7 linked regions of the Homo sapiens genome follow. The protein of the gene in region 1 interacts with the protein of each later gene in a biochemical or structural test. Each region holds a gene or a part of one and is shown in the gene's direction. Other genes may lie near its edges. The genes, in order: MAST2, ABCA2, TRPM1, CACNA1D, GOLT1A, PRR16 and CD46.

Region 1 (4,039 bases):
CCCTCACCACCTCTGTCACTATAGATTTGTTTTGAACTAATACTTCATATAAATGGAATCATAGTGTGTACTGTTTTGTGACCAGATTCTTTCATTCGGATCATGTCTTGAGACTCATCCATGTTGTTGCTTGTAGAAACAGTTCTTTTTCATTGCTGTGTAATTTTCCATTGTATGAATGTATTGTGATGGTTACTAAAACTTATTTTTGTTTTTGAGACAGGATCTCACTCTGTCACCCACGCTGGAGTGTAGTGGTGCCGTCATAGCTCACGGCAGCCTTGAACTCCCAGGCTCAAGTGATCCTCCTGCCTCAGCCTCCCAAGTAGCTGGGACCATAGGCACATACCACCATGCCCAGCTAATTTTTTAATTTCTTTTTCTTTTTCTTTTTGAGACAGAGTCTTGCTCTCTCGCCCAGGCTGGAGTGCAGCGGCACATTCTCAGCTCACTGCAACCTCTGCCTCCCGGATTCAAGCGATTCTCTTGCCTCAGCCTCCCGAGTAGCTGGGATTACAGGCATGCACCACCATGCCTGGCTAATTCTCTATTTTTAGTGGAGATGGGGTTTCACCATGTTGGCCAGGCTAGTCACGAGCTCCTAACCTCAGATGATCTGCCCGCCTTGGCCTCCCAAAGTGCTGGGATTACAGGCGTGAACTACCACGGCCTAATTTTTTATTTTTTGTAGAGGTGGTATCTTACCATGTTGCTCAGGCTAGCCTCGAACTCCTGGGCTCAAGTGATTCTCCCACCTTGACCTCCCAAAGTGCTGGGATTATGGGCATGAGTGCCCAGTTTGTTTTTCAAATTGAAATATAATTCATGGCTACTTGTGAAAAGTTTTCATTGTGAAATAGTTACAGAGAGAAATATGTAAAAGTCCTGGGAACCTTTAAATTACTAAATCTGATAGTCTTTTCCTCATCTTGTCTGACCTCTGTGAACTATTTGTCACTGTTGACTGTGTGTTCCTTGTTGACATTTTTTTCTTTTTTAATATTATAATATCCATTCTGTTACTGCTTCTCTAACTGCTCTCTTGTGTGTCTTTGTCTTGTGTTTTCTCTTCCTGTTCCTGAAATGTTCCTTGAGGACATGTCCTCTGTCCTTAGCTTGATCCTTTATTGTGCTCTATTTAGCAGGCTCATTCTGTTTGTAGATGTTGAGGATGTAGAACAAGGGTCTGCAGTCCTCTTTATTTATGGCATTGTGTCACAGAACATCCTTGTAAAGTGAGCTGAGTCTCTTTAGGTGTGACCTCTTTCCTTAGCTCTACATTTCCATTTTTGTGCTTAACATTTCCACCGTAGACTCATCATTTGTGTTCTTAACATTTGTGATTTTTTTTTTTTTTTGAGACAGGGTCTCACTTTGTTGCCCAGGCTGGAGTGCAGTGGTGGGACCTCAGCTCACTGCAACCTTCGCCTCCCAGGCTCAAGTGATTCTCCAGCTTCAGCCTCCCCAGTAGCTGGGATTGCAGGCGTCCGCCACCACGCCTGGCTAATTTTTGTATTTTTAGTAGAGACGGGGTTTCACCATGTTGGCCAGGCTGATCTCGAACTCCTGACCTCAGGTGATCCACCCACCTCGGCCTCCCAAAGTGCTGGGATTACAGGTGTGAGCCACTGTGCCCGGCCTAACATTTGTGAGTTTTATAATTTGATAGTGACCTTGAAAGTTCATAATTTGTAATAATTTATGATTTTAAAAAGGCCAAAATTTTCATTGTATGTGTCGAGACTGGTTGAATTCTATTTATTTGGGTAGTAAGAGCCCAGCTGATCAGCAAGCATCTACATCTCACACGTAACTTTTTTTTCCCTTTCTCATGACATGGAACAGTGCTTGTTACAGTTTTTATTATACTAGTATTTAAGAATACGTTCTAATCAGGATGTAGGACTTGGATCTCCAGAAGGTCAGTGGTTTACTGTATCATGAAAATAGAATAATTTCTGTGTTGAAATGTGCTTCTCTCTGTATCTTTCCTTTTTGTCATCCAACATGAAATTATATCCATGGCTTTTTTTGTTTGTTTTATTTTGAGATGGAGTCTTGCTCTGTCGCCCAGGCTGGAGTGCAGTGGCGCGATCTCGGCTTATTGTAACCTCTGCCTCCCAGGTTCAAGCGTTTCTCCTGTCTCAGCCTCCTGAGTAGCGCATGCCTGGCTAATTTTTTGTATTTAGTAGAGATGGGGTTTCACTGTGTTGCCCAGGCTGGTCTCGAACTCCTGAGCTCAGGCAATCCACCCGCCTTGGCCTCCCAAAGTATTAGGATTACAGGCGTGAGCCACCGTGCCTGGCCCACATCTGTAGTCTTTTACTTCTTCTCCTTTGACTCCCTTAGCCAGTCTGGCATTAGGTTCTCTCGATTCTGCCTTCATGAAATCTTTCAAACCATTATTCCCATTGTCACTACCTTAATTTCATATTTATAAACTTTAGTCTTGGTTGTTGCAGTATCTTAACTGTATTTACTCAGTCTTCAGTCTCTTAACCTCTAATATATTTCACGTTCTATTAACAAAAGATTGGAACTCATTGCCTCCCTGGCTAATGGTAAGTGCTTTATAAATACTCGTTAAATGTTCATTTCATTTCTCCTTATTCATATACCTTCATTAGCTTCTTATTACCCATAGAATTAAGCCTGAAGACCTTGGCATTCAAGATCTACTTGATACTTAGCACTTTTTGTTAGAAGAGTCAGTTAGTTGCCACTTCTCTTGGTTCCTTAGGACCGTCTGCTTTTCTCGATCATGGCATACAATATTAAAATTATCTTGTTTCTCTCATTAGTAAGTTCTTTGAGAGTCAGACTGTTCCATTTACTTCTGTATACCTAGGGCTTAGTATAGTACTTGAAACATAGTTATTTGTGTATTTATTAGAAACATAGATATTTGCTCAATGTCCTAATTGATTGTAAGTCAGTCAAATGAATTCCTCTGAGGCTGTCTTAATCATCATGGTATCTTCAGCCTCTAGTATTTTAACTGGTATGTAATAGACATTCAGTAAGTAATTGTTTATTGTTAGGCACTTTGATATACTTTAATTAGTCATCAGTTTGAGAAGCTCTTTATTCTCTGCTTCCGCATATTAAAATTCTACTCAGTTTTCCAGGCCTAACTCAAATGCCACAGAAACTTCTGTGAGGCCAGGTGTGGTGGCTCATACTTGTAATCCCAGCACTTTGGGAGGTTGAGCAGGCGGGTTGCTTGAGCTCAGGAGTTTGAGACCAGACTGAGCAACATGGTGAAACCCCATCTCTACAAAAAATACAAAAATTAGTCGGGGTTGGTGGTGCGCGCCTGTGGGCCCAGCTACTTGGGAGGCTGAGGTGGGACCCCTGGAAGTTGAGGCTGCAGTGAGCCAAGGTTGTACCACTGCACTCCAGTCTGGGTGACAGAATGAGACCGTGTCTCGTAAAGAAAGCAAAAAACAAACAAACAAAAAACAAAAACAAAACCACACACCCAAAAAGAAACTCTTCTGCAAAGTTGTTTTTCCACATGGGATCCTAGGAGGATCCTTAATTGGGCTTCAGGAAATCTGTGAATGTCCTGAAATTCCAGTTCTCAAAATTCTGTGGTTTAAAAGTGAAAGCTTAGGTTCCAAGAGATCAAATGCAAAAATGACTGGAAAGCACATAATAAGTAGGTGCTTAATAAGTAGTCTTATCTCATTTTGTTTCTGTAACATATTGTTTGATCCATTCCTGGTCATATAAAGTAGATGCTGAATAAATATTTGCTGAATGAAAGGATGAATCAGTGTTTTAGCACTTTCAACTTTCTGTGTTCATTTGTATTTCATTTTTGCTTTTAAGTTGCATGTTATTGAAGGTAAGAACTATGTCATCATTTTGTCTAACAATGCAGAGCTAAAGGCTTTGCTCACAATAGGTGCTCAGTCATTATTTATTGAATGAATGAATGGAGAATGATTCAAATATTTTGAATTTTGGTAATTTGAGTAATAATGGTTATATGATAGGAGTAGACAAAGGAAATAGAATATTTTTGAGGATGGCA
Region 2 (4,039 bases), on another chromosome or scaffold:
CCCACTCTCTGAGCCACGCCCCCACCATCTAAGCCACGCCCCCACACGTCCATCGGAGCCACGCCCCCACCATCTGAGCCACGCCCCCCACACCCCATCTGAGCCATTCCCCCACACCTCCTAGGTCTACCACCTGCTCTTTGGTCCCTCATCTGCCCTGGATTCACAGTCTGGCCTCCACAAGGGTCAGGAGCCCTGGAGCCGCCTAGGGGGCAATCCCCTGTTCCGGATGGAGGTGAGGGCATCCATGTGTGGGATGGGCCTGGAGTGCTGCCTGCCTCTGGGGGTGCTTCTGCTCCGTGGGTGAGGAAAGGGCCCCTTTGGTGACTTGGAGCTCCTCCTGGGAGAGGGGGAGGGTCCCAGGGGTCTATGGCAGGCATGAGGGGTAGAGGCATGTCGTGGGACCCAGGCAGCCCCAGAGCCAGCCAGTGGGTGGGGCAGGGTGAGGCCTGAGGCCCTAGTGGTTGGGGACAAAGTCCTTGCCGTGGCTCCACGGACCCCTGTGCCCATCCCAGGAGCTGCTGCTGGCTCCTGCCCTCCTGGAGCAGCTCACCTGCACGCCGGGCTCGGGGGAGCTGGGCCGGATCCTCACTGTGCCTGAGAGTCAGAAGGGAGCCCTGCAGGGCTACCGGGATGCTGTCTGCAGTGGGCAGGCTGCTGCGCGTGCCAGGCGCTTCTCTGGGCTGTCTGCTGAGCTCCGGAACCAGCTGGACGTGGCCAAGGTCTCCCAGCAGGTGAGGCCCTGCCTGCCCACTGCCCGCTGCGCTGCTTGCTGCCTGAGTTGAAGGAGGGGCTGGGACCGCTTGGAGAGCTCAGGGCTCCTGGGCCCAGGCTGTGCGTGGGATGCTGCCTGTGGGTGGGTATCCAATGGCACCATGGCTGGTGCCCCACTCCTGCTCACCATCCCAGCTCCTGTCCTGGGCTCCCGTTACCCAGGCTGCAGACTCCCTCCCAGCACCCCTAGCTTGTGTCTCCCTGCTGCTGTCTCCCTGCTCCACTCCTGACCTATCACCCACCTGCAGTCCATCTCACCCCGCACTGCCCACGTGCCTGTTTCCCCTCAGCTGGGCCTGGATGCCCCCAACGGCTCGGACTCCTCGCCACAGGCGCCACCCCCACGGAGGCTGCAGGCGCTTCTGGGGGACCTGCTGGATGCCCAGAAGGTTCTGCAGGATGTGGATGTCCTGTCGGCCCTGGCCCTGCTACTGCCCCAGGGTGCCTGCACTGGCCGGACCCCCGGACCCCCAGCCAGTGGTGCGGGTGGGGCGGCCAATGGCACTGGGGCAGGGGCAGTCATGGGCCCCAACGCCACCGCTGAGGAGGGCGCACCCTCTGCTGCAGCACTGGCCACCCCGGACACGCTGCAGGGCCAGTGCTCAGCCTTCGTACAGCTCTGGGCCGGCCTGCAGCCCATCTTGTGTGGCAACAACCGGTAGGTGGGCGGCAGGGGAATGGGGGTGAGGAGGACAGCCAGGGGCAGGGCGTGAGCCCTGAATCTAGGCTCTGGCTCTGGAGGTCTCATTTGGCGCCCTGCCCTGTGCCCCGAAGTCCTGCCCCATCCCGATGCCCCTCCCACTCTCGCGGCCCTGCCCCCTAACGGCCTGGCCCGGCCCCCTGTCCCCTACCCCAGCACCATTGAACCCGAGGCGCTGCGGCGGGGCAACATGAGCTCCCTGGGCTTCACGAGCAAGGAGCAGCGGAACCTGGGCCTCCTCGTGCACCTCATGACCAGCAACCCCAAAATCCTGTACGCGCCTGCGGGCTCTGAGGTCGACCGCGTCATCCTCAAGGTGCACGGGTCTGGGACGCTCCATGTTTGACAGGCAGAGTGGGAGGGGGTCTCTGCAGGCCTGGGACCCCTGGGCAGAGGGTGTCGGCAGAATTGACACGGGAGGGGTACGGGGTGCAGCTTCGGATGGGACACAGGCTCTGCAGGTGGGGGACCAGGGGGTCGCTTTTCCTTTCGGGAGCTCCAGGGGCTGCTGTGGGAAGGCACTGGAGAGTCTGCTCTGGCAGGGTCCTCCGGCTGGGGGTGGCCGGTCCAGGGCAGTGCTGGTGGAGGAGGGGTGTGTCCAGAGACCTTCCAGAGTGTCTCGTGGGCGGGCAGCTGGGCAGTTTGGGTTCTGGGTGAGGGGTCCTGTCTGGAACAAGCAGAGGCCAGGGCTGGACATTGGCCTGGGAGGGGAGGGCCTGTGGACGAGGCCAATCCTGGGTGTAGAGGGGGTCCCTAGGATGAGGGTGGGACAGATGAGGGTGGAGCATTGGGTGCTTAAGGGACACATGGAGACAGGTCCAGCAAAGGAGCTGGTGGGCACAGCTGGGCAGTTGGGGGTCCGGAGGCCGTGCTGCCCTGGGAGTGGAGGGCAAAGCAGGTTTCACCTGAGCGCCGCAGAAAGGAGTGGAGAGCCCGGGCGTGGGACTCACGCTTGAAATCCCAGCACTTTGGGAAGCCATGGTGGGAGGATCGCTTGAGCTCAGGAGTTTGAGACAAGCCCGAGCAACATAGCGGAAGCCCGTCTCTACCAAAAATACAAAATTAGCCAGGCGTGGTGGTGGGCACCTGTAATCCCAGCTACTTGGAGGGCTGAGGCGGGAGGATCCCTTGAGCCTGGGAGGTGGAGGCTGCAGTGAGCTGGGACTGCACCACTGCACTCCAGCGTGGGTGACTGAGACCCTGTCTCAGGAAAAAAAAAAAAAAAAAGGTGGGGAGGGTTAGTTGTTGGCAATGGACCAGCCACTGGGGAGGTGAGTGGGGTGAGAGCCCCCAAGTCGGTGGGGGTCCGTCCAGAAACTCCATGCCCCTGCCTCACCCCCTGCAGGCCAACGAGACTTTTGCTTTTGTGGGCAACGTGACTCACTATGCCCAGGTCTGGCTCAACATCTCGGCGGAGATCCGCAGCTTCCTGGAGCAGGGCAGGCTGCAGCAACACCTGCGCTGGCTGCAGCAGGTGCCAAGGGTGCCCGCGAGGGAGGCGGCTGTGGGTGGTGTGGGGAGCCCCTCTCTGCCCGGCTCGGCAGGCGCAGGTCCCCCTCTGAGCCGCCCCTCCACCCCAAGTATGTAGCAGAGCTGCGGCTGCACCCCGAGGCACTGAACCTGTCACTGGATGAGCTGCCGCCGGCCCTGAGACAGGACAACTTCTCGCTGCCCAGTGGCATGGCCCTCCTGCAGCAGCTGGATACCATTGACAACGCGGCCTGCGGCTGGATCCAGTTCATGTCCAAGGTGAGCGGTGGGGCCTCCGAGCCAACCCACGACACCCCCTGCCTCGCACATGCCCACGGCGGGCTCCAGCGATGCCCCTCCCGCTAGGTGAGCGTGGACATCTTCAAGGGCTTCCCCGACGAGGAGAGCATTGTCAACTACACCCTCAACCAGGCCTACCAGGACAACGTCACTGTTTTTGCCAGTGAGCTGCCCTCCCCGCCCCGCCCCAGCCCCCCACAGACCTCTTCCTCCCCAGCCCAGCCCCACCCGTCCCCCTGTGCCCTCCCACTCCTTGGCCGCGCCCTGGCCTTCCCCCCTCACCCGCCACTTCCCCTCCCCACCCCTGCCCCTTCCAAACGGCCCCAACCCACAACCCGCCCCCTCCCTGCACCTCCCCACTTCTGCCCACCTTTCCCCTGGGGCCCCCACCCCAGCCCTGTCCCACCTTTCCCTGGACCCTCCTGTCCCCGCCCCCACACCTTGGCCCCGCCCCCGTGCCTTGCTTTCCCCCCCACCACGCCTTGGTCCCGCCCCTGCATCTTGGCCCCGCCCCAACCTCCCGGCCCCAGGTGTGATCTTCCAGACCCGGAAGGACGGCTCGCTCCCGCCTCACGTGCACTACAAGATCCGCCAGAACTCCAGCTTCACCGAGAAAACCAACGAGATCCGCCGCGCCTACTGGCGGCCTGGGCCCAATACTGGCGGCCGCTTCTACTTCCTCTACGGCTTCGTCTGGATCCAGGGTGAGGAGCAGGCCCGGAAGACCGGCTGGAGGATTCATGGGGGAGGACAGGTGTGAGGACGAGAGGGCCTGCCCGGCACCTGATGGCTGCC
Region 3 (3,500 bases), on another chromosome or scaffold:
GTAAAAGAGCCTAAAATATGACCAATGGCTGCTCACAGGTGTTATCAGCCACGTAGGGGATGCCTTGAAAGACCACTCCTCCAAGTCCAGAGGCCGGGTTTGTGCTATAGGAATTGCTCCATGGGGCATCGTGGAGAATAAGGAAGACCTGGTTGGAAAGGATGTAAGTGTTTTCTCTGCAAATGTTGGCAGTTTTTTAAAATTAATGATTGATTTTGAGGTAACCGTTGATTCAGATGCAGTTGTAAGAATAATAAGAGAGCTCCCTTGCAGCCTTTCCCATTCCTCCAATGGTAACATCTTGCAAAACCATAATGCAAGATCACAACCCGGATACTGTCATTGATAAGGTCAAGGTGCAGAATGTTTCCATCAACACGAGGATCCCTCCTGTTGCCCTTTCATATACATATACCTCACTCCTTCCTACCCCCACCTCTTCCTTAACCCCTGGAAACAACTAATCTGCACCACCCCGCATTTCAAGAAGGTTCTGTAAATGGAATCATACAGTAATGTAACCTTTGGGGATTGGCTTTTTTTTCACTCCACATAGTTCTCTGAACACGCGTCCAGGTTGCCATATGTATTGGTCTTCATTCCTTTTTACTGCTGGCTGACATCCCATGATATGGAGGCACCAGTTTCTTTAACCATTTGTCTGTTGAGGAACAGTTTGGCTGTTACAAGTAAAGTAGCCATAAACATTCCAGTGCAGGATTTGAGGTTAACATAGGTTTTCATTTCTCTGTGATAAATGCCAGGGGTGCAATTGCTAGGTTGTCATTATCTAAAACAATTAACTTTCTTTCTATTTTAATGTAACAATTGGCAAAAATAAAACCTTCAAAAGGCAGGGTAGAGATGTGAGAATAAGTTTTAGTGCAGTCACTCCACACATATGTATTGTGCTTGCTTCCCTTGTTGGTCTTAACATCCAAGTCCTGCAGGTCTGATTTGCGCTGTGCACTTTGTCAGGTAACAAGAGTGTACCAGACCATGTCCAACCCTCTAAGTAAGCTCTCTGTGCTCAACAACTCCCACACCCACTTCATCCTGGCTGACAATGGCACCCTGGGCAAGTATGGCGCCGAGGTGAAGCTGCGAAGGCTGCTGGAAAAGCACATCTCCCTGCAGAAGATCAACACAAGTAAGTGCTGGCAAAGGCACGCAGTCCTCCTGGGCTGATGCCATCACAGTGGAAACAAGGCTGAGAAGGAGATTGATTGCCCAAGGGGATTAGAAGATTAACCTTGCTTCTTGTTAGGTCAACAGAAAATGACTCACCTAGATGTCTTACCTTAGCCACCTACCAAATCACATTCACTGGGCTACATGGGGATGCTTTGCCCCAGGTTCACAAGTTAGCACGAAATAACCCTCAGTGCTCGCCATGGTGATGGCCTTGCCCACCCTGTTGCCCAGTGGTTCTTGTTCCCTGTAATTAGTTGTTATTTTTTAAGTGTTTTAACAGGAAAACAATTTCTCAAAGATTTAGTAGGATTCTTTCTATTTGCTGATAAGTATTATGTGATTATTAAATATCTCTGTAATGCTGGGCCTTTCATGTAGACTAAGATGGCCAGGTGGGGACATATCTGGAGAGGGCTGCAGGAGCCATCTGCTCCTGAAGGGGCATCATCCTTGCTGGTCCTGAGGGGGAGCTGTCACTGTCAGACGAAAGCTGAGGTCGAACTAGAGAGAAAGACGCAAACCTCAACCAGAAGAAACAATGATAACAACTGGTTAGAATTACAATAACTGGTATAATCTCTTGGAGCATGTTTATACTCCAGTAATTCTTAACGTCAAACAATTGTTAAATGATCTGAAAGAGCAGTTTGTTTTTCCCATTACTGGCAAGATTTTTGTGGGAGACCATCTAGTCCTGGCGAATGGTCATTGGGAATCATCATGTATGGGACTGTGATGCTGCAGAGTGGGTAGAATGGGGATGGCCTACTAGGAAAAGTTGTAGATTTCCGAGAATCAGATCTCGAAGAATACATTGGTCGATGACTGAATGTTTTTTGTTCTCACATCTCTAATTTTTCTGGACTTGTAAGTTTTTACAACACCCCATTTCACCTGGCCATGTGACTTGTGGGCTTCCCTTTGTCATCCTTCGCCTAGGGCTCTGAGCAGGGCAGGGACAGCAAAGGGGTGCTCAGTTGTCACTTCCCACAGCACGGAGCTTCGAGGACTCCAGCCTAAGCCAAGAAGAACCTGTTCTACTCTGTTGCTCGAAAAGAAGGTGATTTGGCCACCATATTCCTAAAGATTGAAAATATCAATCCTTGCTTGGGTTGGAAATCTCAAAGGCGGAGTCCAGGATATCTTAGTTCATTTTTCCAATATCTCCTGGTCAGGGCTTTGCACAAAGCAGACCCTCAATGCATGTCTGCTGAAATGAACTTAGCTGTAATTACTCTGGTGGACACAGCAGAGTTATTCAACATATGTAAGAGTCCCTGACTGTAGAAACACCTCATGGAAGCAAATTAGAAACTCTGAAATGGCTCATTTGAAATTCTCCAATCTTCTCTTAACCAATGCTGGCAGATTTTTATCTGAAGCCCTTCAGAGCTGAGACCAACGATACTTCCACTTGCCTTTAGTTAATATCGATCAACTAATTCCCATCACAACTAATGGACAGCTGGTGAAATAGGCTCAGAGTGTGATCTGTCATGGCCAGTGTGGCATAAAATTAGGAAGTAGGCAAATGTGCCTCCACTCCCATTTCCTTCCCATTCCAGAATCCCAACTTCCTGGAATCTTCCTGCCACCTCTTGCTTCCCAGAGCCATGCCTGCAGGTTCTGCCACCAAAAGTTAGTTGGTACCCACTGTGTTCTTGAAGAGTCCTATTAACTGATAGAGACAGAGGGAGGACTCTGGGAACAGGTCATTAACTGATGGGCCACTAGTGGTCCAAGTGGCTGCGTCCAAGATCTGCACTTTATTCCAGCCACTGAAGACAGAAACGTCAACAAGAACAGTGTACCTCATTTGTATGCTACTTAACGTTTACAAAATTATTTGCTAGCCAAACACATATTCTGATATTTTTACAACTGCAGGAGTTAAAGGAAGCACTGTGATTGTTCACCTTTTACAAATGGCTGTCTAAGGCTCTTGGTGATTTGGTGATTGGCCCAGTGTCATAAGGGAGAAGCCAGGAATTGAACTGCAATTTCCCTGGCTGGTCCAGATCCCCTTTCATCATCTTATTCTTCAGGGACAGCCATCAGGGTGGGAATTTCAGACCATAGGCTAGGACAGCCAGGGGGATATTTTTCCAGCCAGGAATACCTTCCAATATTTCTCAGTGGTCACCTTGAAGTAGCCCCAACATCAGGTGGGTGGGTTATTCAGGAGTTTAACCATATGTGAGTCAGAAAGTTTCAGACTTTGAGGTCCTGGTTTTCCCAATGAGGCCATAATATGTGACAGAATGCAAGAATGATAACTGGGCTGGGCACAGTGGCTTACACCTGTA
Region 4 (4,039 bases), on another chromosome or scaffold:
AAAGCATCCCCTTGTGGCAGGGAAGGTTTTCTAGAAGGAGACAGGCTAAGGGAGAGAATATTTTCTCTAATCACAATCAGGAACTGAAGGTAGGTGGAGGACATGCTACTTGTCTGTTTGGCTGAGCTCATTTTATTTTTATGAAAACACGATTCAATATTGGCTCTTCTCCTAAAGGTATATTTTGAGCATCACTAGTTAGAAAGGGCACCTGATGACTCAGTATGAAGATTCATGTCCTACTCAGCTTTGACAACTCTGCCAGGCTCTGGAGGAACCTCAGAGATTTAAGAAAGGATTGAAAAGGTTCCCTTTAAAAAAAAAAAAACTAGCTTTGTAGCACTTTGCTGCCTGGTAAATTCTGTATGGTGATTGAGATGCTGCAAGAGATGTGTATAATAAGCGAAGTGGCTCTCTGCACTGATTGCATGAGCAGATCCACGTCCCATATGGTGGATATAGGAACTGCATATGTGTGCAAGTGTAGTTTTGCATCTGCACGTGAATCTATGAATATCTAGATTTTCTAACCCACTTAAGGGCTGCATATGACAGATTCTGGAGTTATCTATAAGCCATAAGGAAGGACTGATAGCATGATCAAGTCAAGATTATACTTTTAAAAGTCGCATTTTAAGACCAACATAATTTTTATGATGAAGTCTGTTAATTTCTGTGCCATTTGTGCTCATCTTTCTTTCCTGCACTCCCACCCCAATCTAGACCTCCAGAGTGAAAGCCAAATTATCTCTCAATCATATTTATTGGATACTCAGATGCTGTATCTGTCATCTACGTAGTAATGTTTGCTTGTCTTTTAGCCGACGCTGGCGTCGCTGGAACCGATTCAATCGCAGAAGATGTAGGGCCGCCGTGAAGTCTGTCACGTTTTACTGGCTGGTTATCGTCCTGGTGTTTCTGAACACCTTAACCATTTCCTCTGAGCACTACAATCAGCCAGATTGGTTGACACAGATTCAAGGTACAAGCAGAGGCCATTCCTTTTTTGTTCTGAACTAGAGATTTCTGTGGCTGTCCAACTGCCATTTGGTCTTATCTGATCGCTGCATGATGAAGTATCGCAACATTTCTAGTGAGGACAAACTTGGTAGAACCATCCAGACACAGCAACTACCAGAGCGAGGGTGCCATCTGTGCCGCGTGGTGAAGCACCTTGGAGCCACTTAATGCCAAGCATCTAATTGTCCTAACCCTGAGCCAACCTAGGACCAAGAATTCTTGAAGCTGGAAGGGACCTCGTAATCCCTGCTCCCTGCCCTCATCGGGGAAGCTTCATTTTCCCCTATAGTACTTCTGGCAAATGGTTTTGGTTCCCCTGCTTTGAATGCTCCAGCACTGGGGTGTGGGACACTCATCCCTAGAGACAGCCCATTCTGGGTTTGACAGTTTTGAGCCTTTGAAAAGTCCTTCCTTTCATCCAGTCAAACCCGTTTCCCTCTACCTCTCCAGCCTGCTTGGTGATATTTTCAGCTGTTAGAAATGACATTGATAGGTGACTGCTTCTGATATCGTCATGCCATAAATGAATTCAGACAGATCTTTTCTGTGTGATTGAATGAAAAAATATGTATAACCTGATGGTGTCAACGCAGAATCGTAGGCTTTTAGGGCTGGAAGGAGTCAGAGATTATGTGATGAGCTGCCCCTTCCCATTTTGTCATCAGTGACACTGAGACCTGGAGAAATCAAGTAACTTCTCCAGAGTCACACACATAGCTAGTAGCAGAAGCAGGACCAGAACCTGGTGGACAGACTGTCCACGCGAAGGCCACGTTTCTGTCCTGAGTGAGGTAGTGAAGAGAGAGACAAGGTATTGGCGTATTTCCTGTGGGGCCTGATAGGGAGGGAGGTGTGAGGGGCACGAGCAGTCTGAGTGTCTTGCAGGAGACCCTGAGGATGGGTGCCCCTTTGTCTTTCCAGATATTGCCAACAAAGTCCTCTTGGCTCTGTTCACCTGCGAGATGCTGGTAAAAATGTACAGCTTGGGCCTCCAAGCATATTTCGTCTCTCTTTTCAACCGGTTTGATTGCTTCGTGGTGTGTGGTGGAATCACTGAGACGATCTTGGTGGAACTGGAAATCATGTCTCCCCTGGGGATCTCTGTGTTTCGGTGTGTGCGCCTCTTAAGAATCTTCAAAGTGACCAGGTAAGGAAATGTGGGTCCCACTGCAAATGTTTTATGAACATGAGGCGGCAACCAGTCACATCCCCGGGCAGGTGATGTTCTGCTCTGTCCTGCATGGGTGTTCTGAGCTGACACCCTCATCTTGACTTATAGGCACTGGACTTCCCTGAGCAACTTAGTGGCATCCTTATTAAACTCCATGAAGTCCATCGCTTCGCTGTTGCTTCTGCTTTTTCTCTTCATTATCATCTTTTCCTTGCTTGGGATGCAGCTGTTTGGCGGCAAGTTTAATTTTGATGAAACGCAAACCAAGCGGAGCACCTTTGACAATTTCCCTCAAGCACTTCTCACAGTGTTCCAGGTGAGTCCTCCCTCCATTCCCCGAAAAGCACTTCGTGAGCAGCAGCTAAAACTCCTCTGCCTTCTTGTCTGCTCACACTCAGGAAGACAAAAGGACTCCATTTTTGTTCATCTCTGCCCTAATCATAGCCTGGTAAATTTTGTGCCATTTAAGTTATTCGTTCTGCATCATCCTCCAGCTGTCTATCTTAAGTGATGTAATTTTTTTAAAGACTTCTAGCTACATTACAAAATAATAAACCAAAAAAACCGTTTTTCACACTCAAGCTCTTCCAAGAAAACTTTTTGATTGATTTTATGAGGTTTCTTTGAAATAGACTCTAAAATTCTTTTCTCTTTGGTACTTTTTGATGGCAGGCCAGTTCATAATCCTAGTTATAATAGATTTACACAAGAAGTGAATTCTCATGCCTCCATGCTTTGGTGTGTAGTTGGAGGAATCAGAGTGGTAGGAACTGTGGCAGCCATTGGTCCCTTCTGTCCTCCTCCTGGGATGCAGTGAGGACACAAAGATTCTGAGGGTGCCTGTCCTGTGGGGCCTCTGCAGGCAGTAGCTGAGAAGGGAGCGGTGGTTGCAGAGAGGCACCGATGGCTCTGCTGCTCAGAGCAGCAGCACATGCTCCCCTGACTCTACGCTGAGGTGCTCAAAACCCTCCTCCTTGGACAGGGTCTGATGGGGAAGTTTAAAAGACCCACCTGTCCTCATTGCTTTTCCTGTGTGATGTGAGCTGCAGAGCCCTGCCAGAGAGGAAAGGCAGCAGACAGCTGGGTCCTGTGGTGGCCCTTTCCATGCCCAGCTCTCTGCTGTGGATGAGTCACTTACCCATTTCTGAAGAAATCCAGAGACCAAAGGGAATGATCTGGACAATTCTCTCCCACTTGGTCATTTTCAGGTATATATAATCTGCTGTAAGCCATAGTATTGTTGTTTGAATTATACTTAAATTTTGGCTGCTGATCAGTGATTCTTTTTTAAAAAAAAATTTCTTTCAGAGAAACTGGTGTCTTTTTTTTTTTTTGGTAATGCATGCATATGGCACAAAATTCTAATGTTACAAATGAATAATAATTCTCCCAGCCAGCCACAAATTTCCTCTTCTAGGAAGCAACCACCATTAAACAGTTTCTTGTGAATTCTTAGATCTGCATTTTCTGATAGCTACAACTCAGTTAAGCTACCTATAGGAGACTTTCCACAGACAGGAGCTCACTGTACGTGCTGTTTTGCATCTTGCTTTTATCACTTTGAGTGTCCTCAAGAGCCTTCCTGCTTGGTCCATAAAAGGCTGCCCCTCCTTTGAAACGCTGCGTCCATGCGGTGGTAGATGTGCCGTTGTTCATATGACCAGTCCCTTGCTGACAAGCATTGAGTTCTGTCTGGTCTTAGCCCACATACACAGGGCTCCAGTAGGTGACCCTGAACACGCATCAGAGGGCACATGTGTTGGCTGTAGATCTGTGGGATAAACTCCCAGAGATGGAATTGCTGCTTTAGAGGGTGTGTCCATTTTAAATGTTGACACACGTGCCCAA
Region 5 (3,702 bases), about 160 Mb from region 1:
GTATGATTCCACTTATAGGAGGTTCCCAGAGTAGTCAAAAATTCATAGAGAAAGTAAAATGGTGGTTGTTGGAGGCTGGTGGGAGGGGAATGGGGAGCTACTGTTTAATGGGTGTAGAGTTTCAGCTTTGCAAGACGAAGAATTCAGGAGATGCGCTTAATACCACTGAACTGTACATTTTTAAATGGTTAGATGGTAAGTCTCATTTTATGTGCACGTTGCCACAATTTAAAACTTAAAAAGGTAACAATTTAAAAACAAAGCAACAGAATGAATTTTTATTTATTGACTATCATAGTGGCAAAGATAAGTAAAATGAACAATTCTGAGTGCTGGAGAGGGTTAAGGAAAAAAGGAACTATATATCCGGTTATTGTACAAATCGTCTTGAGGGGAGCGATCTGAAATATGTTTATCAAAATGTCAAAAATGTAGCCCTTGACCAAACGAGGGGGCCTTCATGTCCTGCACTTCTAGGCTACGCTTGCTGGCTCTGAGTGAACTCCTGCAGCTTCAAAGAATGCCCTGAGACACTTACAAACCTTGGGAATGGGGGCTTACTGTCAAACCTTGGGAATGGGGGCTCACTGTCAAACCTTGGGAATGGGGGCTCATTGTCAGTGTGGGTCCAACCTCGGCAGAACTGCCCAAAGCCACTGGGCTGAAATGAGAGTTGGCCGAAGAGTGTGTGGGGGGCCCGCAAGGTGCCTGCTGCAGGAGGGAGGGAGGACAATGGGAGCAGGTGCAGGCTTGGGTCTTGGATATAGGTCCCAGCTGAGAAGAGGAATGCATTCCTAACTGATGACTTCTGTTTTCCCAATCCAGTGGGAAATGTCACCACCTGAGAGTGGAGACAGGGCAATTCTGAGGAGGAAGGAGGCAGTGTGGAGAGTTGCTCAGGCGGGCCAGCCTCTTGAGTAAGGACCAGGAGAGCTGGGTGGTTCTGAGGCTCTTTGGAGCTGGTGGTCCTGAGTTTTCAGTGGCTCCCTTCTGCGCAGTGTGGGCTGGGCTCCAGTGGTTCTCAGTTGCACAAGGCAGGAGCAGAGGCAGCAGATGCTATGTTCAGCCTTGATACTGATGTGGATAATGTGGCTTTTGAGGACAAGAGGAGGCTGAGAGTATAAAGTGGTCAGGGCAGCACCAGCTTCCACACAGGGCTGCAGTGAGGACAGCATGCCACTGTGTACAGAAGTGACAGCACAGTTCCCAGGTGCCAGACAAAGCTTCATGCCATCCTACCTTCCCCTTCCCATCCCACCATCCCCTGAGAGCATGAAAGCTGAGATTCCTGGATGGAAGTGGAGTCACCCCCATAGAGGGCACCTGTCCTGTGGCAATGGGGGAAGTTTCAGGGTCCCCACCTGCTCCCCAAAGCCCTTTCCTCCACCACCTCCTTGCCCATTGCAGAGATTGGTGTGGGGATCACCGGTTTCGGCATCTTCTTCATCCTCTTTGGAACACTCCTGTACTTTGATTCCGTGCTCCTGGCCTTTGGAAACGTGAGTCTCCCAGCCCTGTGTCCCCACTCCCCTGCCCCAACCTTTCTGAAGTCTCTATTGCCAGGATAGTCCTGGCAATAAAGACTTACAGTTTATTTAAGTCTTTAAATAAATCCCTTAAGTAAATCCCAAGTTTATTCAGACCATGCCTATCCAGGGGTCAGACATCATCAAGCCTGGGCAGAGGAGGGCACAGGAAATGGACGCAGAGCCCGCTGGCACCAAGAATCTGAGGACCTGGATTCTCACACCGAGCTCTGGGCGAGACCCTGGGGGTTCTAAGAGGACTCAGACACTGTCCCTGCCATCTGAATCCCACTCTAGGGCTAGAGATATAACATGACATACATGGCTGGGAGGAAGGCAGGGGCCATGGTAAACACATTTAGTATGAAACAAGGGGCTTAGTGGAAAGAGGGCACACTGAATTGGAGAATGGTGGAGAGGAATTTGGAAAGGAAATGGGTGTGGAGGTGAATAAAGCACTTCCAGGGGGATTGGAACAGCAGGAGAAAAGGTGTGGGGAAGGAGCAGGGAAGCATGGGATATGCTGGAAGAAAACCAGAGAGTTCAATTTGATGAGAGCCTGGGCACTCTTAAGGGATTCATTAGGAGCCAAGCTGAAGACGGTGATAGGGCATCCAGGGGAGGGACTGGAGGGTTATTCTGTAGGCAGTGGAGCCTCTGAAGGTTCTGTGTGACTTTCAGTATGGCTGCCTAACCTACTTAGGCCTCAATCTTCACTTCTTTGGAATAAAAATCCCTCCCGATTCCATCTTCCCCAGATGGTATGGTGAGAAACCAAGTCCCATATGAAAAATGCTTGGGCTCCAGGGAATTGGGTAGGCAACTAGAAACCGTCAAAGGTTTCTCATCCATCCCCCTGCCTCTGCGCAGTCCTGTTCCCAGCCAGCAAGACTTATCAAGGCTCTGGGATTCTGCCACACTGCTGGATGGCCCTCGCTCAGATGGTCTTGAACAGTTAGCACATCCTGTCCCAGCCCACCGCCTGGCTCCAGGCCTAAGTCCCTCACTCCTCAGGGGGCTGGTGGGTTTGCTTCATGCTCCCCTCCCTCCCCTACAGCTGCTGTTCCTGACGGGCCTGTCCCTCATCATTGGCCTGAGGAAGACCTTTTGGTTCTTCTTCCAACGGCACAAACTCAAGGGAACCAGCTTCCTCCTGGGGGGTGTGGTTATCGTGCTCCTACGCTGGCCCCTCCTCGGCATGTTCCTGGAAACCTACGGATTCTTCAGCCTCTTTAAGTGAGTGCAAATCCCTATAACCCTGGACAGACCCACCAAAGTGTCTGAGTGGCTGAGATCACCCCAGCAGGGAGTGCAGAAGCTGGGACTTTATCCTGCAAGAGATGAGAACCATGGACACCTTGGAAAGGCCCCCTAAAGTAGGCTGAAGGGTACTTTGGAGGGATTAGCCCATCCATCAACAAATACTGATAGAGTGCCGACTGTGTTCCCAGCACTGTGCCCCCAGCACTGTGCCTGTGAGCAGGGAAGAGACACGAGGCCTGCCCTCAAATCTCAGTGATCCAGCCGGAGAGGAAGGGCAGTGAGCTAACATGTTCCAGGCACACTCATGATCATCATCTTATTTTATCACAACAACCCACTATAGGATTATCCTCTACTTCATAGATAAGGAAACCAACACTCAGAGAAGTTGCCCCCGGCCCAAAGTCTCAAACTAGTATGTGAAAAAGGTCGCCCTTAACCCAGGGAGCTCTGGCTCCTGACCCCTGTGTCATCCCCTGGCCAGGCCTGTGTCAGCCCTGGGCCTGGGAAAAGGCAGGGTGGAACTCAGCCATGATGTGTGGCCACTGTCAGGCCTGTAGGCACTTAGAGGGGAGCCCAGGGTAGTGTCATAGAGGAAGCAGGACTTGAGAGAAGCCTTGAGGGATGGGTAGGGTCTAAGAGAAGACTGGAGGGCACTGAAGGAAAAGGAAGGAAGGAGTCTCAGAGAAAGTGGGGGTGGGAAGGAAGACTTCATATGTCTACACGGTGGTGTGGAGAGAATAGGGGTGGGATTGGGACAATGGACCCTGGAAGAATGATGGCTTCTGCAATCATGGAAAGGTGTGGGGCTCAGGAATCCCCAGGTTCTCACAGGAGCCCCCGTTTGCTGAAGGCAGCCCTGAAACCCCCTGATTAGCCTGAATGGCCTAGGCCTCAGAGACTTTGGGAAGTG
Region 6 (4,679 bases), on another chromosome or scaffold:
TAAAATAAAGAATTTGAGGAGAAAAAGGATGTTTTAAAAATCTAATTCTCCCTACCTCAGAGAACTCAAGCATATTACTTATTTCACACTTTTAATCATTTCTTCTCTTTTTCTTTTCTCCAGTTTGCATGCTGCAGACTTGTTCTTATAATCTCTTCTTAAGTCTTTCCAGCAGCATCTGCTTTTCACCTTTTCTCATTTCTTCCCCTGATTTTTCAATGCAGTTTTCAATGGTTTTCTTTTGACACCACTTTCAAATTTCAATTTTTTCTTCTGTTCTCTTTCTTCCTCTATATTCCACATATGACTTCCAAAGGTTTTGTAAAGATGAATTGTCCAGGATTAAGAGAGTGATTGATTAAGAGCCTACAGAACTGGGAAGAGGAGAGCTGCCAAGCTTTTCTTTATGTGTAGCACAGTGGAGCTACCCAGAGTGTGAGAAGCAAGAAACAGAGAGCCTTGCTAAGGCACGACGAAAAGGGGAAGCCTATTAAAAGAATGATCTGGAGGAGTGTGCAGTGAAGAAAATAAAGTAGAGCCAGCCTGCTGGGTCAGTAGCTAATAGCCCATGGGTTTACAACTAAGGAAGTTAAAATTCTAGCTAATGAGAATTGTAGACACCTACTGAGAGTGAACCGAAGGCTTCCTATTAACTTCCCTTCTTGGGTCTTTTTGACAGAACAGTCAGAAAGTTGTTTCCTATTTGTTTAGTAGCAAAAGAGTTGAAATGGAGGTTTAAAAAATGATGAAAGAGAAGTTGGAGGCAATCTCTTACTCAGCTCCTTCACGAGGTCCAAATACGATGTCTCCCCCACTCCACTCAAAATGTAAATCAGCATAGGTCACAAAAAGAGGAAGGACAGTTAAAAAAAAAAAAAAGAGTTGGGCCAAATAAGACATACAGCCAAGATGACTGAGACAATCAGAGAGGATTTGGGGTGTGGGGACTTCAAATTAATAAATCCGGTATTAGCTTTGTGGAATTAGCAGGATTAGGGTACCTCTTTCAAGAACACTGGTTGAATTTCATGGTTTCAATAGATGACCATTAGCTGTTATGTGCACCCCCCCCCCCCTTTTTTCTTGCAGAAGTTAAGAAGTCTGCTTAACTCGCAGGTCACCAAGAGATTGATTAAAGGCCTCTGGACATCATTTGGGTTTGGATAAATCTGTAGGGCCACTTTACAGACTGTCTCCAACTCCTGATCCCACTGTGGTTCTTTCTGAATTGATCCAGGTCCCTGCTAGCAAGTGAAGCAGAAAGAATCCAGGCTAGTTGTGAGATGACATACAGCAAGCAGGCTGAGATGATGGGGACATTTCAGAACCAAGAGGAGGGGGCGGGCAGGACACGGACTTGTCTCCCCCACCTTGATGCCAAGGTGGCATCTGGGAGATATCTCGAAGGGCAACGTCGAGGGGACTGCAAGCGTCAACCCTGGCGCGGCAGCACGGCGCCCCTCTCCGCGGGCGGGGAGCGAGCGCGTGTGCGCGAGAGCGCCGGGCGGCGGCGGGAGGAGGCGCAGGCGCGCTGCTCGCCCGTCTGCAGCCCCGAGCCGAGCGCCGCGTCTCGGGAGTTGATGGCAGCACCACTGTGCGGCCGCCCGGCCGAGCGCGGAGCGCAGCCACTCGCCGCTGCCCAGGGAGCGCCCAAGATGTGGGGGGACCGGGGCGGCAGCGGCCGTAGCAGCGCCAGGGACGGGGGCACGCAGCAGCCTCCGCTCGCCCGCCTGTCCTGACCTGCCTCGCTTGCCCCCAAAGAATGTCAGCCAAGTCCAAGGGGAACCCCTCCTCGTCCTGTCCAGCCGAGGGACCGCCGGCAGCCTCCAAAACCAAGGTGAAGGAACAGATCAAGATCATCGTGGAGGATTTGGAATTAGTCCTGGGCGACCTGAAGGACGTGGCCAAGGAACTTAAGGAGGTGAGAGGCGCAGGGGTGGGGAGGGAGTTCGGCACCCTTCGACCCCTCCGGGGTCCCCTTTCCGATTTTCAGCAGGGACAGCCAGATTTCCAAACTCCTGGGAAACTACAGAAAAGGCGCCTGCAGACGGACTTTCTTTGCTCCTGGAGTCCTGAGAGGAGTTGTTGTTGCACTTTTTAATTTTTTTTTTTAATCAGGAAGAAATCAACTAGTGTTTTAATCGATGGACCTGGGCTGGTGGGAGGGATGAACGCACGCGTGTCTCTGAATCTGTGTGTGTGACGACGGGGGAGAGGGTTAGCTGGGGGTGTGTCGGCAGAGGAAGTCGTGAGCAGCCCGGCTGGAGCGTGCAAGATGCTCCTCTCCTGCCCTATTGCTTCCCCAGAGTCCTTTGGCAAGTCCGCTGCCTATCTGTCAGCCTCCCCAAGTCAGGGCTGAAGAGGGGCCGGGTTCTGGGCCCTGGGCCAGATCAGGGAGGGCAGCCTGGAGGAAGCTTGGCTCAGACTACCCTCCCTGTCTCTCGAGCCTCGCTGTAGGGAAGGCGACCCGGGCTGCTGGCAGCCTTGGGGCTAAGGAGGGGGTCTGGGACTTTCTCACTTTCTCAGTTTCTGAAGCATCCCCTGCTCTCCTCCGAACGTCGTTACCAGTAACTCTGGGCCTTCCCGCCACCCTACCTCTGCTTCCTTCCTTCCACCCTGTCGCCACTTGGCATTGAACCCGAGAAGCAGGACGCGCAGGAGAGTGTATGTGTGGCCGGGGTCTTGCCATTGGCGTCCTGGCTCTCTGCAGCTGGGACTGCTTCGGTTCTTCCCCGCTTTTCCTATCCCACTTCGGTTCAGCCCTACTCCCGCCCGCCCCTAGCCCCAGGTGATCCAGATGGAAAGAAGCAGAGAAGGTGTCAGGGCTGAGGCTGCGTAACTCAGGCGGCGGCTCCGGGCGGGGGCGGGGGCCGGGCTGGGAGGGGTGGGGTCTCCCGAGCCAGGCTGGCTGCCGGCGGCGTCGCGGAGCTGGTAGCAGAGTCCCAGCGCGCCGCTCACTACTGAATGGGGTCCTGGTGCGGTTCTCGGTGAGGGAGTCCGCAGCTCCGCTGCGTGAGAGCTAAGACTAGAACTTCGAAGGTGGCGGTGGCTGCAGCGGGAAAAGGGGTGGGGCGTAGTCTAGGTCCAAAATTGTAATCCTGTTTCTGAAGCCAACGGGGAGGAGACTGAGGGTTGTTTGGATGACTGGCCTCTAGAGATTAACCTCCTGTATTCAATTTCCAAACCAAATTTCAAGAGCCCCCTCGTCTTCCTCCCCTTCCCCCGTTACCTCTATGAACTGAACTCTGCATTTGTTACCTAATGCAAGTCTGTTAAAATGGGCCATTCGTCACCAGGGTTAAGTTTGCCAGTGGTAAATGTCGTTCCTGTAGGTTACTCCACAGACAGAACATAATTAGTACTGAGGTCCTGAGAGTGGCTGTTAGTATACATAGATTCAGGGATAAAACTTGTTCGTGTTTTCAGGGTTTCTGTAGGATTATTGCTTCACAACTGGTTGACAGATGGTGGGGTTATGCATTGAAATTCAATTCTAAAAATGCTGTCCCTTTCTTTGTTATTCTTTTATATGACATCTTTGGTAGACTGTGTTTTCATCTGAAACATGGCGTTTTAAAAAATGAAATTGGGCATGTTCCTTTCGGCAGAATTGTGCTTAATAGTTGGTGAGGTTTCTATGGGCGATGTGGAAAACCTACAGCGGCACAGAAACGTATTTACTGTTTTCATGAGGCTGAGACTAAAAGAAAGGTAGTTAAACAGAATTCTGCATCTGTGAGCCATACTTCCTTATGTTTTAATGTCAGTCCACTCACTTTTTTTGCACAGAATAAATGACAAGAAACTGCACATGGTCCTGGTTTTGCTTTGCATCATTATTTATGGACATTTAGAGATTAAGTAGTGAAATCTTCAACCTCCCTGTGGTTATTGGTTAGAATCACAAAAATGTAAGTCAGGAAATCTGTTGATACCACTTTCTGTGTCTTCATTACTGAAGATTTTTTAAGGTTAAAAAAAAGGTTGTTTATAAGAGGAATAAAAAGCAGAGATAATGTACAACCCAGTAGATGAAACTATCTGACAGATCTAGAGATACAATTTTGACTCAACATTTTGGAAGATTTGTTTGTCTTAAGGATCTGTTTGAGTAAAAATCTCACCATGAAACTGAAATTTATGACATAAATAATGTGATGTGATTGTTAATTACTTTTGTGTGGGTATCATCATCCTAGATTTGCACAAGAAAATGTACCTACAATGGCCAAATCCCAAAACATCGGCTATTCATAGAATATGAATGAAAATATTTTGAGAACAAAGTATTTATAGGGTATGTTTAACCTATGACATCTTGCAGTTGTCCAGCATGTATCTTTTTAGGATAATCCTGCATATGTGAGTGAACATGTCTTTGGTATAGTTTTGGATAAAGAAATAACAAAACTTTGTACATTACAAAGCTTGTTGGTTGCTGTACATGAATGTTGCTATTCATCATATTCAGTATTCTGGCAGCTTAAAATTAGTACGTGTTAAATATAAACTGCTATATTTAGAATTCTAATTCCTTTATTGGCAATGCTATGCTTTTAGACCATAATATATTTTAATATAAATTATCGGCGAGCTCTTCTTAACTTGCAACAGAAATTAAAAATAAAAAAGTAGTTATGACTATATCACTATGGCAGTCATCATATAGTATTTATTTT
Region 7 (4,039 bases), about 160 Mb from region 1:
CTGACCTCGTGATCCGCCTGCCTCGGCCTCCCAAAGTGCTGGGATTACAGGCGTGAGCCACTGTGCCCGGCTAATCCCTCTATCTTTTAATTTTAATTAGAATCACATTGGATTTATAGACTAATTTTGAGAAAATAGTACAGATAAATTTGCATGTTGAACCACAGAATGTTGTCACAGAAAATGTGAGTGGGGAGGAAGAAGAAAGATTATGACATTAAATGTAAGTTTATAAATTTTTATGATACTACTTTGAGAAACATTAATATAGTTTATAAGGAAAATTATATTTTAAGGGATTTTCTACAAAGGTGAAAAAAAATCACCCTATGAGTTTAAAGGATTTTAAGCTTTATATTTAATTCTTTCCTTCTTTTATTAATTTAATCTATATTTCTTCTTTTTTCCTAGGATATCCTAAACCTGAGGAAGGAATACTTGACAGTTTGGGTTGGTATAGCTATCATGACAAATATAAGTGGTAGTATGTGTAGAAACGTGTAGGTAATTAGTTTTTATGAGGTGCCCAAACATAGGATCCTTGGTAGGGTAAGATAACTTTCTTAAATGCTGTGTTTGTATGTAGGTTAAAATATATAAAACACAATTTTCTTTCCACATTATATTGTTATTTTGTGATGGTAATCTGTCGATAAATTTTCTTTCTATTCATATCTTATATACATGAACCTTAAAGCAATCTAAGTTGGGTTTATTTTTTCTGTAACACGCTGATTTAACACACTTGATGTAGGCTTACGCAGTTTACACAATGCATGTTAAAAAAAAAGATGAAGTGCAGTTGTGATATAGGCCAATGAAAAATAAAGATTTCTTAATAAGTAAAAACAAAAATCTATTACCTTTCATTTCTTAGACTAGTTTGGTAATGGTTAATCATTTTATATAATGCACCTTAGGCTTGTTTTTTAGTATTTGCCTTACCTCCAAAATCTGTGGTCCAAGTAAATCTGTTGCCATCTTAAACTGTTAAACACTTGATAACTGTTTATGAGATGAGAAGAGCAGAGTTGAACATAGCACTTTATGCTTTGACTTATAGCAATTTAATAAAAGTAATGGCAGTTTAGAAGCAAAGGTACTAGGGACAGAAACAGTTCTAAAAATTAAGATTTTATAGGATTATTTTGTGTTCTCTAGATAGTCAAAAATGTATTCTCAAATTTCTCTGTATATTTTTTATCCATGTGCCCTGGTGTTTCATTTATTATGGGAATCCTATTGGTATTTAGGACTATGTCTTAATTTTGGGGCAGGGCAGAGTATGGAAGTAGAGAGGATGGGAAGGGGATTGATAAGATAAAGTATTGTTTGTGAAGACTTTGTAAATACCATCTGGGCAATAGAATAATAGAAATTTATTTATGACTCACTCTACAGATCACTTTTGGAGGAAAAAATACAAATTAAATGTCTACCAAAATAAGAAATGACAGAATGACTGTTGAACTAAACCAACTCTCATGGGATAATACTTTTCAAAAATCATTTTCCTTTACTATAGTGAATTCTAATTACTCTAATAACTTTACCGCTAAATAACCTGATGTGGTAGCTATAGAGAAAAACAGTGAAAAATGAGGTTCCCATTAAGAGTTTCACAAGTGGAACCCTTAACCTGGAAACTGGTTAGAAGGGTTCTATGATCAAAATGACCTGGATGCCCTAGCAGTCATGCTAAAACTATATAAAAAATTTTTTTTTCCTCTGTAGTCTTGTATTAGTCCATTCTCAATGCTGTTGTAAGGAACAGTCTGAGACCGGGTAATTTATAAAGGAAAGAGATTTAACTGACTCAGTTCTGCAGGGCTGAGGAGGCCCCAGGAAACTTATAATCATGGAGGAAGGGGAAGCAAACACATTCTTCTTCACATGATGGCAGGAAGGAGAAGTATGAGAACCAAGTGAAGGAGGAAGCCGCTTATAAAACCATCAGATCTCGTGAGAACTTACTATCATGAGAATAGCATGGGGGAAACTGCCTCCATGATTCAATTACCTCTCATGGGGTCCCTCCCACAACACGTGGGGATTATGGGAATTGCGATTCAAGATGAGATTTGGGTGGGGACACAGCCAAACCATATCAAGTGTTTAGATGATCTGATTGAAATAAATGCTATCTGGAGATCCATGTGTTCAACATCTTGGAACTGTTTTCTTTCTCAGATGTTTGGGTCATTGCTGTGATTGTTATTGCCATAGGTAAGTATCACAAATTTTGACACCACTTAAGTCAAAAAATTATTGTGAAGACATGCATTTTAAAAATAGTTTTTCAGTTTCTATAGTTTTTTCAGCTTGTAAATTGGTTAAACCGATTTAGGAAAACCTGACTTTTTATTTGATATACTTAACTACCTACCTTGTGTTAGTGATTTTATACTCTGTTATATTCTGTATATCTACTTAGTAACAAAGCCTAAGTAATACATATTTTCTCAAGATGATCAGTAATATTAGTTGGCTTCCCAAATGTGCTTTTGATAGTTTTCTAAATTAAGCAAGGACTTTTCTCTGACTTACTATGGACTGTGTAAGTGATTATGGGGAGTTGGATTTAGATAGCAAAGAGTCTGGATGGAATATAAATGTGTAGGTGCTTAAATAACATTTGACCACTGAAATGTAACCAACATTTATTTCTTCTGCTAGATGTTGAATCTTGGTGATTAGTTTTCAGAATTATATGTCATTTGTTTCCTGGTTTCTTATAGTTGTTGGAGTTGCAGTAATTTGTGTTGTCCCGTACAGATATCTTCAAAGGAGGAAGAAGAAAGGGTAAATTAAAGCATGTTTCTTTTAACTTCTTGGTCCTTCTTATACTTAACATGCTTTTGTGCAGCTTCAGTTTGTAATCTGTATTGCATGCTATCTTTTTTTTTTTTTTAAAAAAATGCCTGCATTAGTTTGTCCTACCAATTGCATTTCTTTGCTAAAAATATTTTCAGCTACTTCTAACATCACTGCAACATAAAAACATCTGTGCAGAGTTCCTACAGCTATTATGACTTTAAGAAAAATTTCTTTTGGATTTGAGGTTTAAGTTATTTAGCAAATCATGGACCACTCACTATGAGGCCTTCTCTACCCTATTCCCTATTTCCAAAATTGCACTAATGGCCAAAATTAAATTTAAAGTATTTCACTGTGGAGACTTTGACAGTTGTATTCACTGGAATTTTTATAATGAAAGTTTCCACTTGTCTATATAGCTTAGCTAGTTGCAAGAAGCTATGTAGGCATATCATTTAAATACCCAATTTGGTGTCTTTTCATTTAAAGTTGTTATTTATACATGTTAAACTGGGGGATTCAAAACAACACTATCCGATTTCCCTCTTATGTTCTCTGAATTTACCAGATTGCAGTAAAACTGATAGGGTTAAAGTTAAAATTGCTGAGAGGGGTTAGATCTATAAGGTACCTCAATTAACTGTGTCTTTTAATATATAAAAATGTAAAAAGTGAGTGGGTTTAGAATAGAAGAAAAATGTACAAGTACATATCTTCTAAAGAAAATAGGGTTTTAAAACATCAAACTCAAATTTTAGTTAAAGAGCTTACAGTTTAACAAAAGACTTAGAATGAATCCTGGAACACAGACTAAGATTAGGTGCTTTGAAATTTCTGAAAGATAATATACATTCATTTTTACTGATTTTTAAAAACTGTTTTCCCCTATAGTTTTAGAAATAGCTTTGAAATCAAACCTAATAATTTTAAGACTTTTGGTACTCATGGTTTTATGATATATATTCCTTTTATACTGATCATCAGGTTTGGGCTAAGTCATAAAAGTACAAGCTTTACTCATAAGGAACTCAAACTTTTTTCATATTACTTGGTTATCTTTTGAAATACCCATAATCCCTTCACTTGAATCTTAAATCTTGTATTAATGGAACACGATATGCATATTTGATTTATCTATCAGTTGTATATTCTAAAAGTTACATATCTACAACGTGAGTACAAAATATTATCAATGGAATATTTTTACAAATCCATAAGGTTT

What was found.
Region 2: the proteins of MAST2 (region 1) and ABCA2 interact in a test that uses a peptide from one of them, tested with the Homo sapiens proteins (one large-scale study listed by IntAct).
Region 3: the proteins of MAST2 (region 1) and TRPM1 interact in a test that uses a peptide from one of them, tested with the Homo sapiens proteins (one large-scale study listed by IntAct).
Region 4: the proteins of MAST2 (region 1) and CACNA1D interact in a test that uses a peptide from one of them, tested with the Homo sapiens proteins (one large-scale study listed by IntAct).
Region 5: the proteins of MAST2 (region 1) and GOLT1A interact in a test that uses a peptide from one of them, tested with the Homo sapiens proteins (one large-scale study listed by IntAct).
Region 6: the proteins of MAST2 (region 1) and PRR16 interact in a test that uses a peptide from one of them, tested with the Homo sapiens proteins (one large-scale study listed by IntAct).
Region 7: the proteins of MAST2 (region 1) and CD46 interact in a test that uses a peptide from one of them, tested with the Homo sapiens proteins (one large-scale study listed by IntAct).

The regions. Positions count from the first base shown.
Region 1 is NC_000001.11:45,806,202-45,810,240, forward strand, and holds part of MAST2 (microtubule-associated serine/threonine-protein kinase 2), read left to right. Parts: intron 1-4,039. UniProt on the Homo sapiens protein: Appears to link the dystrophin/utrophin network with microtubule filaments via the syntrophins. Phosphorylation of DMD or UTRN may modulate their affinities for associated proteins. Functions in a multi-protein complex in spermatid maturation.
Region 2 is NC_000009.12:137,018,087-137,022,125, reverse strand, and holds part of ABCA2 (ATP-binding cassette sub-family A member 2), read left to right. Parts: intron 1-124; coding exon 125-235; intron 236-515; coding exon 516-734; intron 735-1,064; coding exon 1,065-1,432; intron 1,433-1,630; coding exon 1,631-1,790; intron 1,791-2,819; coding exon 2,820-2,948; intron 2,949-3,055; coding exon 3,056-3,223; intron 3,224-3,310; coding exon 3,311-3,407; intron 3,408-3,774; coding exon 3,775-3,948; intron 3,949-4,039. UniProt on the Homo sapiens protein: Probable lipid transporter that modulates cholesterol sequestration in the late endosome/lysosome by regulating the intracellular sphingolipid metabolism, in turn participates in cholesterol homeostasis.
Region 3 is NC_000015.10:31,063,726-31,067,225, reverse strand, and holds part of TRPM1 (transient receptor potential cation channel subfamily M member 1), read left to right. Parts: intron 1-38; coding exon 39-163; intron 164-978; coding exon 979-1,150; intron 1,151-2,084; exon of another isoform or gene 2,085-2,194; intron 2,195-3,500.
Region 4 is NC_000003.12:53,721,493-53,725,531, forward strand, and holds part of CACNA1D (voltage-dependent L-type calcium channel subunit alpha-1D), read left to right. Parts: intron 1-821; coding exon 822-982; intron 983-1,941; coding exon 1,942-2,167; intron 2,168-2,299; coding exon 2,300-2,507; intron 2,508-4,039. UniProt on the Homo sapiens protein: Voltage-sensitive calcium channels (VSCC) mediate the entry of calcium ions into excitable cells and are also involved in a variety of calcium-dependent processes, including muscle contraction, hormone or neurotransmitter release, gene expression, cell motility, cell division and cell death.
Region 5 is NC_000001.11:204,200,693-204,204,394, reverse strand, and holds part of GOLT1A (vesicle transport protein GOT1A), read left to right. Parts: intron 1-1,407; coding exon 1,408-1,499; intron 1,500-2,583; coding exon 2,584-2,762; intron 2,763-3,702. UniProt on the Homo sapiens protein: May be involved in fusion of ER-derived transport vesicles with the Golgi complex.
Region 6 is NC_000005.10:120,462,725-120,467,403, forward strand, and holds the start of PRR16 (protein Largen), read left to right. Parts: upstream 1-1,575; 5' UTR 1,576-1,762; coding exon 1,763-1,921; intron 1,922-2,901; exon of another isoform or gene 2,902-2,987; intron 2,988-4,679. UniProt on the Homo sapiens protein: Regulator of cell size that promotes cell size increase independently of mTOR and Hippo signaling pathways. Acts by stimulating the translation of specific mRNAs, including those encoding proteins affecting mitochondrial functions.
Region 7 is NC_000001.11:207,782,881-207,786,919, forward strand, and holds part of CD46 (membrane cofactor protein isoform 3 precursor), read left to right. Parts: intron 1-411; coding exon 412-450; intron 451-2,190; coding exon 2,191-2,226; intron 2,227-2,738; coding exon 2,739-2,802; intron 2,803-4,039. UniProt on the Homo sapiens protein: Acts as a cofactor for complement factor I, a serine protease which protects autologous cells against complement-mediated injury by cleaving C3b and C4b deposited on host tissue.